Linked DNA regions of Homo sapiens: region 1 is linked to region 2. Evidence: fine-mapped expression QTL. A gene starts in region 2. The other region holds a variant in brackets. All regions are shown on one strand. Distances are between the middles of the regions.

Region 1 (10,164 bases), 110 kb before region 2:
GAGCCTCTGAAAAGTTACTTACATTTTCTGGGCCTCAGTTTCCTCATCTGTGAAATGGAGATAATGATAGACTCGTCATAACCACAAATAGCTTCATAATAAAAATCTTCATCATAGAGCTGTTGTGAAGATGAAAGACAGGATGTAAAGCTCTTGGTCTGGCATCTGACACAAATTAAATGCTCAATGTTATCCATTCTAATTTATTTAATTCCTGGTCCCTAACACGTATCAGGACTTCTTTGCTGACCCTCCTGCTCTGACCTTTAACTTCCTATTTCTTTGTGGATGGTGGGTGGGACAGAAGGTCTGGGACAGGGCTGTTTCAGGAGTCCTACCAAACATCTGTCATCCCACAGGCGGTGAGGCTGAAGCAACAGCGGGGCCCACTGAGGCGCTTTGCTTTCCTGAGGATGTGGATTGAGATGGCTGTGCTGCTCTTCCAGAGCACGTGACCAGGGGTCTACTGCACAAAACAGACCTCCGGAATCGGAACTTACTCTTTTGAGTACCAATACTTTTTGGTTTAGCTGTCTTTTGTAGACAATGAAAATAATATGGCTGGGCGCAGTGACTCACACCTGTAATCCCAGCACTTTGGGAGGCCGAGGCAGGTGGATCACCTGAGATTAGGAGTTTGACACCAGCCTAGCCAACATGGTGAAACCCTGTCTCTACTAAAAATACAAAAAATTAGCCGGGCGTGGTGGTGTGCACCTGTCATCCAGCTACTCGGGTGGCTTAGGCATGAGAATCGCTTGAACCCGGGAGGTGAAGGTTGCAGTAAGCCGAGATCATGCCACTGCACTCCAGCCTGGGTGACAGAGTGAGACTCCATCTTAATAATAATAATAAAAAAAAAAGTAAAGAAAGAGAATAGTATATACTTTTCTGCCTTATTAAACAGTATGTAGAACGCAGTTTTTTTTCTCTGTCTTTGGGATTTTACAAAATAATTGAACATCAGTTATTACATCCTGTTGTGAGATATAAGTGTCATCTCAGAGGATACTGGGTTATATGAGATGGTGTTTCCCCAACAATAAATCTACCTTATGAATTAAACAATTTTAGAACTTAATTTGGTAACCATGAGCTTGAAAACAGTGCAGCAAGATTGACTATGACACTTCCAGGCACACTGATGCCGAGGCAGATATAAATAGGCTCCAAATGCTTCCTCACACTGCCTGCCCAAGTCACACCAACAGTCATTTAATGCTGCCAGATTTCCCCATCTGCAGTTCTCCATTACCAGGGCATGTTCATAAAGCAATGCTCAGACATTAAATTTGGAACCAGGGTTCATCTAATTTTCTTGACGCATCCCTCCCCCATTTCTCTGGCTTCTGATTCTGGCTGACACTTAAATTTAAAAGCTGAGAGCTCCTAGTGGGGCCAGGTTGCCTTCAGCTCCCACTGAATTGCCTGGCTTAGCCATCCCTCTGCAGTTCTTCCCTGGAGGGACACAGGATTTCAGTAAAAAGTAGCTATTATGACCACTTGGGAATTATTAGCACACAATGCCACCCCCTCTAACGACTTTATTTGTAAATTTGCCAAGTGCCGGCATACTTTTTCCTATCTGAGGAGAAGGCCATTTTCTACACCACGAAGCAAATGCCAGCGTCTTCCTCCTTGCTGGTTTTGTCCATGACTTGAGGTTCTTTAAATGGGCAGTTAGCTCCCAGAGGACATTTTCGTGGGTGCATCACACTTCGTCAGCCTACCACAACACACTCTGTGCTCAGGGGACACACGGATAAGTCAGTCCCCACAGTTGGGAACCAAGGCCAGTGACCTTCAGTAGGCCCTACTGTTTAAGGCCACTGTCCTTCCCAGGACCTCGTGCCACCCCTGGATGGAAACACACATGTCCACAGTGCTCATCGGAACCTGTACAGGATCTCAATGTGCCCAACAGAGCCCTCACTGACAGGACCTGTCAGGAAGCTGGATGCACTATTCCAGATCCCCAGACTCACAGCCCACCATGGGGCTGTGCTCTTCCCTTTGGGAGTGGGCTCAAGAGTGGGGCCCATATGGTCTGTGCCCACTTCACGAGTGGCAAACGACTTGGAGAAGCCCTATGCCTGGGCTTCCACACCACAGGTGTGTGTGGCTCTGAATGAGCTACTTGGAGGGGGTGCACCCAGCTGACAGCCATCTGATCTCCCCAGAATCTGGGAAGCCAAGGATCTTCCAACATTGGTGAGATGAGAGATGGAGCCACCAGGACCTCCCAAAGCAGGGGAGAGAGGGGAAAATGAGGTTGGGGAACTGAGCCTGTCGGCGGGGAGTGTTCTTGTGTCAGTGATGGATGAAGTAGCTGGGCAGGGCAGTGGTAAAGCAAAGTGGGGCACTAGGTGATGGGGCAGGAGTGGGAGGAATGGTGACATGCCCCTTCCTCCCATTACTGGTGACTCAGGGATGCTGTGGGTTCAGCATTGCAGGGCATCTCTAAGAGTCCACAAGTTTCATGGCATAAGGAACAGGGGAATGGGGTGTAAGGGGGTTCCCGAGAGTGGCTCAAATATCAGCCCACTCCCAGAGGATGGAACTCACTGGCGGAGACCCTAGGCCTGGTTTCACACAACAGAAGCAAATATGGAAGTAAAGGATGGGTGCTGTTTTTGGCTTTAAGATCCCTCGGCTCCTGGGTGTGAGTGCCTGACGAGGAGGGCAGGCTGGGCTCCATGAAGTCAAGGAGGGTGGTTTTAAGGACTGGCTCTGGACCTCCACTCAGCCTGAGGGCAGATTGCTTGCCAAAGCCAGGAGCCAGGGGCTGCAGAGATAGAGAAAAGGTGGCTTAGTAGTCCACTCAGTGGCCCTTGGGGGGTTCCCTCAGCCTTCCCTAAAGCCAGATCCTGGACCTTCTCTCATGCTGGAAATAAACATGTGCCTCTCTGCCCAGTAAACAGGCAAGGGGCAGGATGGGGACAGCACCAGTTCCTACCCCAGGTGGCAAGAAATTGGAACCGTTCTGTCAGCCCTCCATCAAGATCTGGGGTGGGAGTCCCCCTTCCCTCCTTAGACCTCACTTCCAAGTTTTCCTGTGGTAGTTATGGGAAACAGGGGCCTGCTTGGCCCTGCTCCTACTCTCTTCGCCTTACCTTGGGTCCTCTCAGAGGTTCCCACCATGATTATTCCCTCTCTTGCTAGCCACCTCATCATCCTCCCGCCACTCTGGCGCAGGTGTCCTTGGCTTTGTTTCCAGTGAGGCCTTGAGATAGGAGATGTGCCTACAATTCAGAGATGGGAAAAGGTGGCAGTGCGTAGTAGACGAAGAGCACCTGTGTGTCCTTGCAGAGGGATAGCAAGCTCTTGCATACTGTGGTAGTGGAGATGCAAGCTGGTGGTAGTGGAGATGGGGCATACCTAAGGAGAAGAGGATGGAGGGGGTGGACATGATATTGGGGATGGGATATCTTGTGGCTGGGAGTGGCCACCTGTGAAGGGTCTGCTGGCCTTCAGAAGGAGGCCAAAAAGAGAGGGGTCCCCAGACTGCTGCAGATGCCTCTGGGAACCACACTTACCTTAAGGCACTGGGTCCCACTCTGAAATGCAAAGCCACTTCCCAGCCCTTCATTTACCAAGAATCACAGGTTCCAAAAGCGTGTACACATTATCTTCTGATGTTTCCTAATGTTCTAGACATTTGGAAAACAGACTCCTTTTTAGAAGTTGCCATGATTTTTCTTGGCTTTTATTAGCATGTGTTAAAATCATATTATCCAAACACTACCAGAAGAACATGTATTGTTCTGAATAAAGTGCTTAAAGAAAAAAAAATGCAACTTATTAAATTGGACATTCTTTTCTAGTTCATAAATTTTGGATTACAATCAGGGCACAAAAGGAGAAACAGAATGCAGTATTAGAGCGAGAAGCTTAGTTAAGAACTTGGGTGTAGACACAATACCATGTCCACTCTTCCCACTTCCTTGCTGACTGAACACTGCACCTGCATAAAGCAGCAAACAGCTTTGTTTCAATAAATACATTTCCCTTCATTCAAATCAGAAAAGTTAATTATAGTAAAGCATTTTTAATTTGACCATCTGTTTATACCCACAGGCAAAATTTATCCACAGAGTTTAAGTGTGAAAGTGTTATTTCATTGGGCCTTCAGCTTTCTAATGCTATTTGGGTTCAAGATTGTCTCAGCAATTCATTATTGGTTTCTTTATATTTACCTAGTACTATTTAATACCAACACTATAGTGTTTTGTGTTAAAAATGCCAACCAAGGATATTTTCACAGTTCTAGAAACGAGTGGGCCTGAGGCTTTCTTCCCAATAAACTAAGTTTTCTTTTAACTGGGTTTCTCACATTAGCACTCTGATATCTGCACAAAACCAAGTCCTGTTGTGACAGATTTTAAAATCGGTGATGTTCTGAAAAAATAGTAACTTGGAAGTCTCTGTGTTTGAATCTTGGGTGGTCATGTTGAGAGCAGGAAAAATTGCATTAAATACATTTTTAAAACATTCATTTGCAACCAAACATTTAAATCTTCCAAGGAACGTGCAGGGTGGTGATAGGGCAGCTGCAGTGTGAGCAACCCCATCAGGAGTGGCTGGTGGGTGGGCTTGGAGCTCCATCAGTGGCACACACTCACCGCAAGCTTCTGGACCGCAGACCTTGCATCCTGGTTGCGAAGCCTTTGACCTTCTTTTAGCAAAGAGAAAAGGTAGGCTGCTTCTACCTTCAAACAGTCAAGAGCAACTTCTGTTGAGTTCACCTTGCTGCTGACCCAGAAGTTGGAGCAGGGGCCAAGCTAAGGGGTGCAGAAAGGCTAACAGTACTTGCTGTAAAAAGAAGTCATCTTCAGTCATCCTGGGGAGATTCCCTTGCCCCTCTCTCAACTTGAGTGCTTTTAGCTTCATGCAGGAAAGATTTTAGTTGCATCTTTTATTAAATTTCAATCTCGTTTTACAAAAGCATACCAACTAGCAGTCCTGAGCAACTAGTATGAAATTTGCTGAATACAGCTAACAGAAAGCTTTCTAAACTATCCTGTTCTTTGTTTCTTTCTACAGGGGTGTCTGTAGAATATTCTTTAGTTTCACAGTGATATATGCTGTTTCAGGAAGCACAAGGTATTCTGTTTCTGGGAAGTGATGACCTACTTTTAGTTTGAGCACAAGTTTCCATGACTGGTTCTAAATCTGGCCAGATATTGCTAATACCAATGACAGGAGTTAGGGCAATTGGGAGGCTCTTGGTCCCCAGTTCCTGTCAAGGGTAAGCCCATCTGGGTCATGGCTGGGCTTTCACTATCAGTAGTTATATTTCCCTTTGATGCTTCAAAAAGCCTATGGTGAATCTGTTGCCTCACTTTACTTCTCCATTTGACTTGGAAGCCTGAGAACTTACTGAATTAGGATGAAAAAAGGCTCTGTACCTGCTAATATTGACGGCAGTAAGATGCTAGCTTACTATTTTGCACAGCACCATGTATAGTGCCTGTTAATCAGGCCAACTATAGCCAACTTTTTCTTTTTTTTTCTTTTTTTTTATATAAAGAAAATCTATGTAAGTTGAGGTTCAGAAATGCATATATTTTTTACTTACAAATATTCATCTGACCAAAATTCAACATAACCTTTATGGAACACTTAACAATTGTTTTGTTTTTAAAATAACATTTCATTCAAACTGTATATAATTCAGTAAAGTTTTTTATACAGCAAGCAATGCTTAAACCCTGGA[A/G]AATCTGTAGAAAAGAGATTTTCACACAAAATAAGAAAAGAAAAATCTGAGGTATCCCTCACACACACACATCCATTCATTCTGGCCCATGTACGTGCACATACACACGCATGCCTGTGTGTTCACACAGACATATTCATTCTCACTCACAAAGTGGCTGCAGCATAGGCAAAAATTGTAGGTCCAAAGGAAAATGATTGATTGTTCTAATAAAGAGTCCGAGTAGCTCAGAAAAAAAAACCAAAACAAAACACAAGAGTCTTCTGAGGAAATTACTACCTCAAAAAAATGTTCTCAAGATGAATTTGAGATCTAAGCCTACTAAACTGCTTTTGCAAAACAGCTCCCTGCAGTCCAAGGTGACTTGTGCAAATAGAAGGAATCAAATGAGGCTGGTTCCTGTACTTCCTTAAACAAGGAGGTGGGATGCTCGCAGGTGCCCAGGGGCACTCCCATCATGCCAGGTACTGCTGCAGTGCCATCTTTGCCCTGAAATCACAAAATTCCTGTTAGCCATCATCTCAGAATTGTAATTGGGGTAAAAAACCCTATGGTTCAATGATGATAGCTGGGGAAGTCTAAAAAAGTAAATCTCCAGAGGGAATTGGGGTGAGCCCAGGTGGGCACCTACCTTAAGGGGAAGAGATCTGCAGTGGGTAGACACCTGAAATCTACTCTGGCTATATTCTTCTTCCTGTGGATCTCTCAGAGGGCTGTTCCTGCACTTAAACCTGCTGCAGCTCAGTGACATTCCACAGTCCCTGGTATGTGCTGACATTCTATGTTTTCTTTTGTCACTGGCATATAGTTGTGATAGGTCTTACATTCTTTACTTTTTCTTACTGCCATGTAGGTTTTATGCAGTGAGGCACAACACTAGGGAGAACACTTAGGGTTCTGGGAAGCAAATAAGAAAACTGACCGAGGAAATGGTGTTGAGGTGATTAGAAGGTGCATGGAAGGGGCCAAGAGCCCATGGGATGAGGCTGTCTTATGCTTCACATGCCTCAGAACCGTGGAAGAAGGCTACAATTTCATCTTGTTCTTCTCATCACACCTGATGACACCATAACTGATCAATGTGAGATGTGTGTTGTTACGGTGATGGGGGAAGAAGGTGGCCAGGTGGAAAGGAAAAGATAGAATGTAGGCCGGGTGCTGTGGCTCACACCTGTAATTCCAGCACTTTGGGAGGCTGAGGAGGGCAGATCACCTGAGGTCAGGAATTCAAGACCAGCCTGGCCAACACGGTGAAACCCTGTTTCTACCAAAAATACAAAAATTAGCCGAGTGTGGCAGCGGGCACCTGTAATCCCAACCACTTCGGAGGCTGAGCCAGGAGAATGGCCTGAACCTGGTGGGTGGAGGTTGCAGTGAGCTGAGATGGTGCCATTGCACTCCAGCCTGTGCGACAAGAGTGAAACTCCATCTCAAAAAAAAAAAAAGAACAAAAAACAAACAAAAAAACCCAAAAAACAAACCAAAAAATAATGTGAACAGTGACTTAATCTATCCTGATCCTTGTAAAAGTGGCCTCCTTTGAGGTGGGCCCAAGGAGGCCTCCTTTACTATTCCTATCACAAACATGGTAAAGTTTCTAAAGAGGCTGTAATCGTGGGAGTTAGGAAGTCAGGTTTCAGCAATGGTCTCTTCTAAGCTATGGAAAGAAAGTCTACAATGTTCAGGTACAATAGCTGATCAAACTAATACCAAGTAGACTATGCATACAATAAGCTGGATTCAAGTGCAGTTTCTGCAGTAATGGACACAACAGTTTTTTAAGTGGTATACTAAGGTGTATTCTTGCAATTATATAAGACTCTAAAGATGATATTGTGAATAGTCCAATCCATCAGAACAGAAAGCTCTAGAAAGATTATCTCCAAGTTATGAGCAAGTAGGGTTCTACAAGGACATTTTCAGAAACAAGTTTATGAATGATGCCACAGACCATCCACCTGACTCCCCAAATACTTAAAGAGGCTGAGAAGAACAGTTCTGATGGAGGCGGGAGCTCTGGGACCCTGCAACCCTGAAGCCCTCCAAGCCTGGGTGGAGAGGGCTGGTTAGCAATAGCTTCTCATCTGTAAGCATCTGAAAGTCAAAGGATCAAAGTCTTAACGACAAAAGGAACCTGAGAGATATATTCTTCAGGTGATAGACCTTACTGTACTTAACTGAGGGTCTTGATTGAAATTCTGTATTGCTCTTTAAATCTGCCAAATTCAAACTCCTTCTGGATCTTATTCAGAGGTTGGCTAGGTTTGATTATTTTGGGTCTCAGAGACTGTACCTTTATTGTCTTTCTACTGTCATTATCTAAGGAGTCTTTTTAGAAGAATGGTTTTGGAGGCAAGATCACCCTTTCTTAGATGGACTCAGGTTGGGTAGCTCAGACCTTGATTCTATTATTTTACGGTTTACGTTTAAGAAGAGCTAAAAACTTATGTGAAAACAGCACCAGAGTGGTCTAAGCAAGCAGGCTAAACCTATCCCACTTGATGCTGGTAAGGCCTATCCTACCATCCTATGTCATCCTTGAGATGATTTTAAGTAAAATTTGTTTTTACTTCTGAATAAATATGAGATAAAACCCCCAGTGAACAACCTGGCTCTCAGGTAGAAAAGATGGGCTGACAGAGCCCACTGTTTATGCCAGCAGCTGTGGAGGTGGAGGTTCCAGTCCTCAAGGTACAAGCTCAGATCCAGCCTTCAGCATGTGGATGGACTTGACTTTGATGGTACACTCATCTGACCAGCAGCCTTGGGCTGCAGTTTTTTAGTTCTTCTTCCTCTTTTCTTTTTTTTTTTGAGACAGTCTTGCTCTGTTGCCTAGGCTGGAGTGCACTGGTGCAATCTCGGCTCACCACGATCTCTGCCTCCTGGGTTCAAGTGATCCTCCTGCCTCAGCCTCCCCAGTAGCTAGGACTACAGGCACGTACTACCATGCCCTGCTAATTTTTGGAGTTTAGTAGAGACGGGGTTTCACTATGTTGGCCAGGCTGGTCTCGAACTCCTGACCTCATAATCCGCTTACCTCGGCCTCCCAAAGTGCTGGGATTACAGGCGTGAGCCACCGCGCCCAGCCTAGTTATTCTTCTTTAGCCTACAGGATGGTAAGCTTCGGGGAAGCAGAGGCCTAGCCTGTCCTGTGTGCTTCACAATCTGGAAGAGCCATTTACTTCAGAGGAGTTAGTTAAGTTCCTCTCCCCTTCAGTGGAGCAGACAACCTGACAGCCAAGACACAGTGTGACGTGTTCTACAGATGCTACAGGAGCACAAAAGGCATCCCTGGCAAAGCCTGGAGGGGAGGGTGGAGAGTGGGTCAGGCAAGGCTTTTTGGAGGACATAGCAACCTGATATGAGTTTTGAAGGATAAACGGCCACCGTCCAGGCATCTTTTTCCTTTGTTTTCTGGACACCTTATGCGCCTGAGTCTCTGCCTGCCTCACTAGCTGTTCCTTCTGCTCCTTTGCTGCATCTTTCTCATCACTGCCTAAATGCTGGAGGGACTCTAGATCTTGGTCCTTAGTCCTCCTTTCTCTCTTTTTACTTGCTCTAAGAGACTTCATCCAGCTCCATGGCTTTAAATACCATTCAGATTTATAGCCCTGCTCTTCCAAGTCCCTTGGATATCTAATATGCATCTTAACGCTGGCATACCCAAACAAGAACTCTTGATGCTCCCTACCGCAACCCACTTCTATATTCCTCACCATCTTGGTATATGGCAACACCCTCTGTCCAGTTGCTCAGGCTAAAACCCTAGACATTTTCCTTTCCTCTCTTTAACATCCTGTACTGAATCTGTGAGTAAGTCCCGTTGGTGCTTATCTTCAGATTAAATCCTGAATCCAACCACTTCTCAATACTTCCAATACTAATCCCCCCACTCCCTTACCGACATTATTACAATGGCCTTTAACTGGTCTCTGTGCCTCCATTCTTGCCCTCCTACAGATGGTTCTCTGTAAGTCACCAGAGTGATCTTTTAAAAATTCAAATCAGGGCCCGGCGTGGTGGCTCACGCCTGTCATCCCAGCACTTTGGGAAGCCGAGGTGGGTGGATGATCTGAGGTCAGAAGTTTGAGACCAGCCTGGCCAACATGGTAAAACCCTGTCTCTACTAAAAATACAAAAAAATTAGCTGGGCGTGGTGGCAGGCGCCTGTAATCCCAGCTACCTGGGAGGCTGAGGCAGGAGAATCACTTGAACTCAGGAGGCAGAGGTTTCAGTGAGCCAAGATCACGCCATTGCACTCCAGCCTGGGCAACAAGAGTGAAACTCCATCTCGAAAGAAAAGAAAAGAAAGAAAAAAAGAAAAAGGAAAAGGAAAAAAGGAATTCAAATCAGATAATGTCTCCTCTCCTTAACAGTCTCCAATGATTTCCTATTAAACTCTGAATAAAAGCCAAAGTCCTTACCTTACCTACAAGGCTCTTCATGGT
Region 2 (10,164 bases):
TTTGCAAGACAAAGTGTTACTTCTGAATTAATTTACTCTCTAATACGACAAGATAGAGTATTATTAAAGACCTCTGCAAAAGCAGTTCCCTTTGCCTTGTATGCTCTTCTTCTGTCACTTTTTCTAGTTAGTTCTTACTTATCCTTGAACTTTCAGCTCAGCATCACTTCTTCAGGGAAACCTTCCCTAGTTCTTCCTATTGCCCTCCATATTAGATCAGTTTCCTCTATGACATGTTTTGAACAGCACCCTATATACTTCATTCATAATACTAATCACCATTCACAAACTGTGTGATTATTTGATATCTATTTTTCCCACTAGGCTAACATTTCCAAAAGGACAGAGGTCTGTGTAGCTTACGGCTGTATTCCCAAACTCAACACCATGCTTGCCTAGCAAATGGCAGAAGCTCAAAGTAGATGTACAGAATATATATATACAAAGTTAAAATTCATATGTACAAATGAGTAAGAAGAATAAGATTTACTGGAGTTTGGAAGAATTCTGTATCACTCTAACCTGAGAAAGCCGGTTTATACAGGATAGCAGGTTCATGTAGAAGATAAAGAATCTCGGCCGGGTGCAGTGGCTCACACCTGTAATCCCAGCACTTTGGGAGGCCAAGGTGGGTGGATCACTTGAGGTCAGGAGTTTGAGACCAGCCTGGCCAACATGGTGAGACTCTGTCTCTACTAAAAATACAAAAAAATTAGCCAGGCATGGTAGTGGATGCCTGTAATCCCAGCTACTCAGGAGACTGAGGCAGGAGAATCGCTTGAACCCCGGAGGCGGTGGTTGCAGTGAGTCGAGATTGCGCCACTGCACTCCAGTCTGGGCAACAAGAGCAAAACTCCATCTCAAAAAAAAAAAAAAAAAAAAAAGATAAGAAAATAAAGAATCTCAACTCTGAAGCTGAATATAAACTTGGGCCTTTGGGCAAAACAAATTCAATCAAGAAAAGAAACCGAGGAGCGGCTGTAGGAAGAGTTCTTTAGGAAAATTTAAGTAGACATGGACTTGCACTGAGAGTGTAAGACATTAAAGACAGTAAAAATAATTAAAAGGACGCTGTGGTAGTGCAGGCACAAAACAACAAAGTCCTGAATGAGGGTGGTCATGGGAAGAGAAAGATATAAGAAACACTAAGAATAAAGAAGCAACAGAGCTTAACAACTGGTAGATACAGGGGGATGAAAGGAGGAAGAATCAGAGATTATTCAGGAGGTTTAACAGTTACTTATCAGTGAAAGATAACACCATTAACAGAAATTGGGAACTCATAACTAATTCCCCTTAGGAGAAGGAATGTGCTTTATTGGAAGCGATGGGTGTCATCCACACAATTTAAGATGTAAGACTAGATGTAGAAGAAAGTCAAGGTTGGCAATGCAGATGTGTGAACTGATCAGTTAAGGGTACAGGAAAATCAATGAGATTTCCCAAGGAGAAGGTATAAAGAGACTCAAATGGAAATCCTTTAAAACAACTTGAATGCCTCCTTGCTGAAATTATGTTTATCAAATTATAGCGTCACCCAGACTATGAGCTCCTGAAACGCATTTCTGATCTCATCCTTGCATTCTCTAACGTATACAATACAGAGCTTGTACGTAACTGGTACATTGTAGCTTATTAAAGGAATCAACCATTCAAGATAATTTCTGATGAATGTTTCCTGTTCTAGTTTGCATTTCAAAACATGGTGCTCTGGGTAGTACTTTGAAAGGTACAGGTTTCACTTTAAATTAGTAAAATCAGTGAATTGAAACATTTTAAATCATTTATCCAAAAGCTCCTACTTCCCCAAGGCTCTAGGAGTGAAGATCTGATAGACCAGACTTTGGGACTACGGAAATCCTTTTTTTTTAATTAAAGAAAAAAAAAAGCCCCTAATGAGACTAGGGCTAAAGGCAAATCCTAAATAGAAGTATTAATAGAAAATACTCTTCAAGAAGTTTTTGAATAAAATAAGCAGAAAATATTATTTACCAAGGAAGTGAAACAAATGAAAACTTTCAATCATATGCATTATACAAGTTGACAACATCCAAAAAGTAAACTTCAGGTGAACTGAAGGATAAATGAAATCTAAATGAATAATTAAAGGAGAACTGAGAACAGCCAAGACACATACTATTTTTTTTTAACATAATGAGGTAAAAGTCATTGGCCTGCACTCCCACAGAATATTCCTGGGTATTACAGTCAGTGATGGAGTAACAGGCTAATCTGATCTAATACTTAGGTAAACAGTATTTCCTTAGTTGCAGTTTAAAAATAAGAAAAAATGACTGCTAAAATGGATCAGGGGAAAAATCTGTTGACAGCCTCACAAAATTATTATTGTATTGACAACTTAAGCCTTTTCAAGGTTGAGGTCTGCCACACTGCTCTAACCCTGAATCATAAGCAAATGTCCTAGGTGTTTTCAGATAGGTGAGTTTGTTTGTGGGACAAGTCAGAGAAGAGAAAAGAAACCGGTTGTAGTTACAAGACTCTAGGAACCCGACAAGTCATTTATAATCCAACTACCCTCTCAGTATCAGACTGGCTTCCACAAGTCTAAAAGATGGTCAATCAGTATTTGCCTGCTTGTTTCCAACAATAGCAAATGAACCATTGGTAAACTGACCATTCTCAGAGTCGGACAGCTCGAATTTGTTGCAAAATCCTTCGAAGTTATCTCCCAGTAACTTTCATTCCTGGTCCTGGTTCAAGAGCAACATAGTGAAAGGTGAAAGTCGTCTTTTTCTTTAAAAAAACTTTTTTTAAAAAAAAAAAAAACAGGTTTTACTTCCTGGCATGTCAATACGTTCCCTTCTTTCAACAATGGGGAAATAAATCTCACCCCCTTTTCCCCCCTTCAATGTTTGACTCCCCTTAAAGAAAAACGGAATACCAGGCACAGGGAACATAGAGTTCCTCTGACTCAGAGCCGCGACCTCTGAGCAGAGCGGAGGAAAGGGGCTTAAAAAACCACACACACTAGGAAGAGTTGCAGCTGATACGAATCACCATTGCCAAAAAGCAAACTGCTTCAGCCGGTGCCCAGGTGCTGGGACGCGATAGAAGCCGCACAGACTTGGCCTGGCAGCTCTGAGGAAATGGGGGCCAAGGAGCCTGCACCTCTTCTTGCCAAAGCCCGGGAGAGCTGAGTGGGCGCTCGTTCTCAGGCCGGCTGCAAGCCCGGCGCTTCACAAGGCAGAGCGTTCGGCCCCCGGGAAGCGGCATCGCTAAAAGGAAGGCTCAGTGAAACGCTTGGCAAAGTCCAAGCCGCGCCGCCCAGCCAGTTGTCTATAAGCCCAGCCACCCCGCCTGCCAGACGCCATCCTGGGAACCCGCACCGGCGGGAGCTCCCGGAGTTGGAAACGTCTTTGGCTCGGCCGCGGTCCCCTCTGCCCGTCTATCCCGCCTCTCCACCCTCGCTCACTCCCTGGCCCGAGACTGAGCCGGGGTCCACCCCAGGGGGTGGTGCCCAGGAGGCACACCACGCTTGGGGGAATGGTGGAGACCGGGATGAGGCTTCCTGGAGGGCGGGCGGGCGGCCGCGGCGGGTCACTCACCGAAAGGACGCTCATGCGGATTGGGGTCTCCAACAAGCACGCCATCTTGAGCCTTCCCACCCGGCTGCTGCAGGCGCCGGCGCGGGGGCCGGCACTTTCGACAGCCAACTATTGGCCAACGCTAGGCACCGCTCCCTAAAGGCAGCCAGATAGACGAGAACTGGCCACGCTCTGGACACCGCTCAAGTACCGGAAAGGCCCGCAGAAAGAAGGGCAAAAGGGAATGGCGTCAGGGGCTGTCCTACGAATCGTTCTCTCAGAAACAGCAGCTACTCTGAGCCTGGGTTAGAGGTGGAAGCGGGCAGCGGTTTCCGCATGCGCAAAGAAGATCTGCCGGCCCCACCTGCCGCTCGCGGTGGGCGGGGCCCCAGAGGCGGAGTCTCGCCCTGACGCTACGAGTTTTACGGACTGATAAATTGCAGTTTATGGATTCCAGTATTCATATTTGGAAAAAGTAGTACGTGGAGCCACATACATAGTTTGAAGTTCACTTTCATATTCATTCTCTCTCTCTGCACCAAACTCCCGGCGTCGTTATCTCCATTTTATAGGTGGGGAAATTGCGATCCCAGAACCTTTGCCAACCGTAAGAGTGATTGTTTCACGATCCGATACAGATACGTGACTTGCCTTAGCGTTGTGTGCCGGCCCCGTTTATTCTGGTGTAGTGTTAAGAATAGCCAGAATGCTTGGGTTTCTTCCTAGCTACTTGATTTATCAGCTGCTTTACCCTGGGCAAGTTATCTAACCTTCTGTTTGAGTTTCCTCATCTATAAAATAAAGGTTAATGAGGATAGAGGAGTCAACAAACGTGAAGCTCTCAGAAAAAACCTAGAACATAGAAAGCGTTATACAATATGTGTTAACATTTCTCCAGCTTCTGAGTTAAGTGGGGAAAATGGGGGCAAATATCTAAATATTTCGCACTAAAACACTCTCATAACCGAAGCTAAATAAAAGTATGCTTTCAATTATACTTGATTAATTCAGCTGTCCTACTACTTTGTGTGTGTGTGTGTGTGTGTGTGCAACACTGCCCTTGACTTGGTTGGATAAGTTTCACCTTCGTACTGCTTGCAACCAGTAAGGTTTTCACAGTATGGTTGCAATTGGCCTGTTAACATTACTTGTATTCCTTCCATTTCTATAGCCACACCCTAATTCAGGCTCTTGTAACCTCTCCCCTGGACTACAGCAATAGCCTTCCAACTGGTCTTGTAGCTGGTAGCCTCTCCCGCACTCTGCTCCTCACTGTTTTCCTGTCTTCCTCCTGTACTTGGTTTCCAAATTTAGTGTAGCATTTACCACCCCTGCTTATGGGTCTGTGTTCCTTAACAAACTGTTGAATTCCTGGAAGGCAGGAATTTTATTTTAGGTAGTCCTTCTGCTATAATACTATTTCTGAAACTTGGGTAATCTGTACACCACCTACACAATCTTTGCCAATCTGCACCTAGGTATTATTATTCATTCAATATTTTTATTTAAAGCCAATTTCAACTCATTAAAAATTTTTGGCTTTATCCTAAACCATAATACTCTGTGAAATCAAGTTTGTTGTGCTCCTTATTTTTATTCTAGTACACATTAACTACAAAAAGTTTAAATGTCCATCCATGGACCACCTAAAATCACATCATGTACTGCATACTGCAATGGGGCAGAACATAACCCTAATACATAGTATATAGAGTCATTATAACTGTATTTGATCCACACTCCATCCATTAGCTCAAGCAATACATCCTCCAGGAATTGTCTCCCCCAGGCATGGGTTAGATACCCTTTCCCCCATGCCTTCATACTTCACTTTAATTGTAGGGTGGTTTTGTTGTTGTTAATTGTTTCCGTGTTTGTCTCACTATACACTTCAAGACAGGCACTGGGAGTTTTATCTTCTAGGTTGTCTATCTCAGTGCCTAGCACAGTCACTTAGTAAATGTTTGTTGTACGAATTTTTGGCTTAGTTTGAGCCTGGGACGAAGATTTGGGTGCATTTTGTTTATTTAGTAAGTGCTTTCAGGGAACAAAATTGATAGGTCAGGGAGAGTGAAAAAAGAAAGAATAAATATTCAAGATAATTGTCCATTATTGATGCCACTGTTTATTCCTCAATCACCTCTGAAAACATACAGAATACCTCTCTGGATTGTCCATCTTGAAGCTACAGCATTCATCCACCAATACCATATGTATTGGTTGAGGATTTCCCTAGGGCTATTAACTCCCTGCCCTCCTGGATTATATTTGTGCCCAGAACAGAACGGGCTTCTTTAACCTGATACAAAAAAGCAGAGTCTGCAGGTTTCATCTTAGGGTGGGATATAGGCAGCATAAATCTGAGCTTGCACAGAACTGTCACTGCTGCTGTGGCTGAAATCCGAGCGGGGAGGAGCTAGAAATGTGACTCAAGACATCTCACACCTCTGTCTGTTACCCAGGCTTTCCTGTTTTATATCCAGAAGACTGACATAGACATTTTACAGGAAGAAAGCATTGAATAGCCAACTCCTAAGCTTGGAGATCAGGAATCTTGCTCCCAGTTCAAATTTTGCTGATAAATAACTTTAGGTACACTCTTAAGTAATGAGTAGAAATTGGAAGATAAAAGGAATTTTTGATTCAGCCTGCATGTGACGATAACAAAACAGTTAAGCATGGGCGCGGTGGCTCACACCTGTAATCACAACACTTTGGGAGGCTGAGGCTGATGGATCACCTGAGTTCAGGAGTTCAAGACCAGCCTGCCCAATATGGCGAAACCCCATCTCTACTAAAAATACAAAAATTAGCCTTGCATAGTGGCATGCACTTGTAGTTCCAGCTACTCGGGAGGCCGAGACAGGAGAATTGCTTGAACCCGGGAAGTGGAGGTTGCAGAAAAAAACAAAAACAGTTAAATTTGGCACTGTGGTGAGGAGAGGAAAATATCCATGCTGACTACTCTGCAAACAGAAATGAAACTTCTCCCTGTCGTTCCATGGCTCTTAGAGCAGTATTAATTTCTGTAAAAAAAAAAAAAAAGACAACAAAGTGTGAGTTTAATGAAGAAAAAAAATGAAATGCAAAACAAGAAGTAGCCAGAAAAAAATCTGAAAAATCTTTATAAATATCTTTGTGGAACTGCCTAAGATGAGAAACAAAGCCAGAGAGAAATGTATCTATACAAAAATAGGAAAGTTTAAAGTGTGGGGAGATAGGTATAATCCAAAACCTGAATGGTCCCAAAAGAAATTTAGAAGAATCTTTAAAAAGACTTGAAAACGGGCTGGGCACGGTGGCTCACACCTGTAATCCCAGCACTTTGGGAGGCCGAGGTGGGTGGATCACCTGAGGCCGGGAGTTCGAGACCAGCCTGACCAACATGGAGAAATCCCGTCTCTACTAAAAATACAAAAAAATTAGCTGGGCATGGTGGCGGATGCCTGTAATCCCAGCTACTCGGGAGGCTGAGGCAGGAGAATCGCCTGAACCCGGGAGGCGGAGGTTGTGGTGAGCCAAGATCGCGCCATTGCACTCCAGCCTGGGCAACAAGTGCGAAACTCGGTCTCAAAAAAAAAAAAAAAAAAAAAAAGGAAAACAGATGAAATACTTTAAATAAAAAAGAAAATGGACTAACAACAGTATAGAGGAGATACAATGCAGTTCAACAGACACTAACTACAGGTTTTCTTGTGAATGCACTGAACTAGAGTTTTGAAGTGGAACAAAGACATGGTTCTTTCCCTCAGCAGACAGGAATAAAAGTGAGACTGTGAGGCTGGGCGCAGTGGCTCACGCCGGTAATCCCAGCACTTTGGGAGGCCGAGGTGGGTGGATTACCTGAGGTCAGGCATTTGAGACAAGCCTGACCAATATGGTGAAACCCCGTCGATACTAAAAATAGAAAAATTAACTAGGCGTGGTGGCACCTGCCTGCAATCCCAGCTACTCGGGAGGCTGAAACAGGAGAACTGCTTGAACCTGGGAGTGGAAGTTGCAGTAAGCTGAGATCGCACCACTGCACTCCAGCCTGGGTGACAGAGCAAGACACTGTCTCAAACAAAAAACAAAAAAAAAACAATGAGACTGTGAGAGGTTCAATAATTTGCTTAAGGTTGCTTGGGGAGTAAGAGGCTGAATCAATTTTGGTACAGGTTTCTCTGGTTCCAAAGTTCTTTCCAGAGCTCCTACAGTCCTCTGGGACTTAATAGGACTTTCCCAGATGAGACTACCGAATGTTCATCTAAGCAACCAACCTATAAAGGAAAGTCCACAAGGGCTTTTGCGGTGGGAAATAATGCATCAATAATTCATCAGGTCCACAGAGGGTGTGAAATGTATATGCCTGGCCAGGCGCAGTGGCTCATGTCTGTAGTCCCAGCACTTTGGGAGGCGGAGATGGGCTGACTTGAGCTGAGCTCAGGAGTTCAAGACCAGCCTGGGCAACATGGCAAAATCCCTTTGCTACCAAAAAAAAAAAACCAAAGCAAGAATTAGCCAGGCATGGTGCCTTGAGCTTGTGGTCCCAGCTGCTTGGGAGGCCAAGGTGGGAGGATGGCTTGAGCCCAGAAGGCAGGGGTTGCAGTGAGCTGAAATGGTGGCACTGCACTCCAGCCTGGGTGACAGAGTGAAACCATGTCTCAGAATAAAAACTAAAAAGAAAATAAAAGAAATATGTGTATGGCTAAAATAGAAGTAGTGAGATGTTTACAAAGTTTTAAAATTAGAAACCACAGTAAAAAAGAAAATACTCATTTAAAAATTGAATTACTGCTATGGTAGAATTCCAACTTACAAATGTAGAAGAAATGATAGAATTAGAAAATCAGGCTGGGTGCAGTAGCTCACACCTGTAATCTCAGCACTTTGGGAGACCAAGGCGGGTGCACTTGAGACCAGGAGTTTGAGACCAGCCTGGTCAACATGGCAAAAACCTGCCTCTACTAAAAATACAAAAATTAGCTGGGCATGGTGGCGCACAGCTGTAATCCCAGCTATGTGGGGGCTGAGGCACCAGAATCACCTGAACCCAGGAGGCAGAGTTTGCAGTGAGCTGAGATCGTGCCATTGCACTTCAGCCTGGGTGACAGAGCAAGACTCTCTCTCAAAAAAAAAAAAAAAAAAAAAAGAAAAGAAAATCAACACTTGACAACTGTGTGAGTTATAATTGTTTCAAGCAAGAATCATCAATGGATGCCACAACTAAGTGGTGAAAATATTAAGAGAAACAGGATATTTACACAGTCTTAAAGTATCACTCTACAAGATACTAAGGATAGTAGAGTACCTGCCATTAGATACCTACTAATGGTAGGTAACATTTTATTTAAGTCATTGTAATTGGTATCACCAGTAATGCAATAAACACCATGATATCATGCACTGAGAAGAACACAAAATTACTTCTGTGGTATTCTTGCCAAAACTACATGAATATAATCATGAGGAAACATCAGATAAACCCTAGTTAAGAAATATTCTACAAAATAACATACCTATACCCTTCAAAAATATCATGAAAGAAAAACTGAGGAATTGTTTCAGATTAAAGGACACCAAAATGATATGACAGCTAAATGCAACCTGTGATCTGTAATTGGATCTCAGAAAAGGGAAAACTTTTTTTTCTTTTGCTATAAAGGACATCAATGGGAAAATTGGAAAAATTTGAATAAAGTCTGTAGATAAGGTATCATTGCTAATGTATTGATTTTGATAATTGTACTGCTGTCATGGAAAGAATGCCCTTGTTTTTAGGAAATACACAATGAAAAATGTAAGTGTAAAAAATTGAGTCACTGTGGATTGAGCAACTGTTTTTCTTTAATAATGAAAAAGAAACTCTTTTAATTTATTTTAATAATGAAAAGAATTTCACAAAAGAGAACCTAGCTAAGGATCCTGGAAATTTATTCATTTGACAAAACATAGATAGATAGATGATAGATAGATAGATAGATAGATAGAGATATACTAGGTACCTACTATGTGCCAGGCACAATGCCCAGGAGTGGAATACAATTATGAACAAGATGGATATATTCCCTGTTTTCACAGAGCTTTCAGGCAAGAAGTAGAGAGTCAAGCTAACAAGTCACTACACTGTAGGGTGGTAAGTGAGAGGGTGTGGGGCCAAGGGAGTACATAGGAGAGAAACCTCACCAGAACTGAGATCATAGGAGGGCCTTATGGTAGAGCTGGCACCCAAGCTCTGACCTGAAGTGTAAATAGGAATGAAGCAGGCAAAGCCCTGCATGCTATTCCACACAGATCATGGCTCATCCGTGAACATTTGTCTAATCGAACAATTAAGATACTACTTCCCTGGATATAGATGTGGAAACACTGGCAGATTGTCCAAAATCATATTAGGACAAGAGCCCCAATTATTTATAGGTGAAGAAGAAACACTCTATATACTATCAGCCCATCTTTGATGGTTATATGACCTTCTGGATTGCCCAGGTAATAGAAAGGCTCCCCTACTTCCCTCAAGCAAGGGTGACCACATTAGGCAGATGCATTTCAAATGGGGAAGCAATAATAACAAATTACACAAAACAGATCTGATCTTTTTACCACTTAACAATACAGGAACATAATTTGGAAGCCATAA

What was found. PIP is the estimated chance that this variant, and not a neighbour inherited with it, causes the effect.
Region 1: its variant is fine-mapped to the expression of ARMC8 in blood mononuclear cells (TOPMed, PIP 0.93).

Annotation. Positions count from the first base shown.
Region 1 is chr3:138,291,900-138,302,063 of GRCh38, reverse strand. ARMC8 (armadillo repeat containing 8) reads right to left here. Exons shown (of 22, transcript NM_001363941.2): 22 at 3,691-6,205. The coding sequence ends at 6,172. NME9 (NME/NM23 family member 9) reads left to right here. Exons shown (of 11, transcript NM_001349018.2): 11 at 360-1,065. The coding sequence ends at 424. Among named protein-coding and RNA genes, the nearest start is that of NME9, 33 kb to the left of the region's middle. The variant A/G (reference allele first, on the strand shown) is at 5,717.
Region 2 is chr3:138,181,002-138,191,165 of GRCh38, reverse strand. It overlaps ARMC8 (armadillo repeat containing 8), which reads right to left and starts at 3,865. Exons shown (of 22, transcript NM_001363941.2): 1 at 3,567-3,865. The coding sequence starts at 3,611.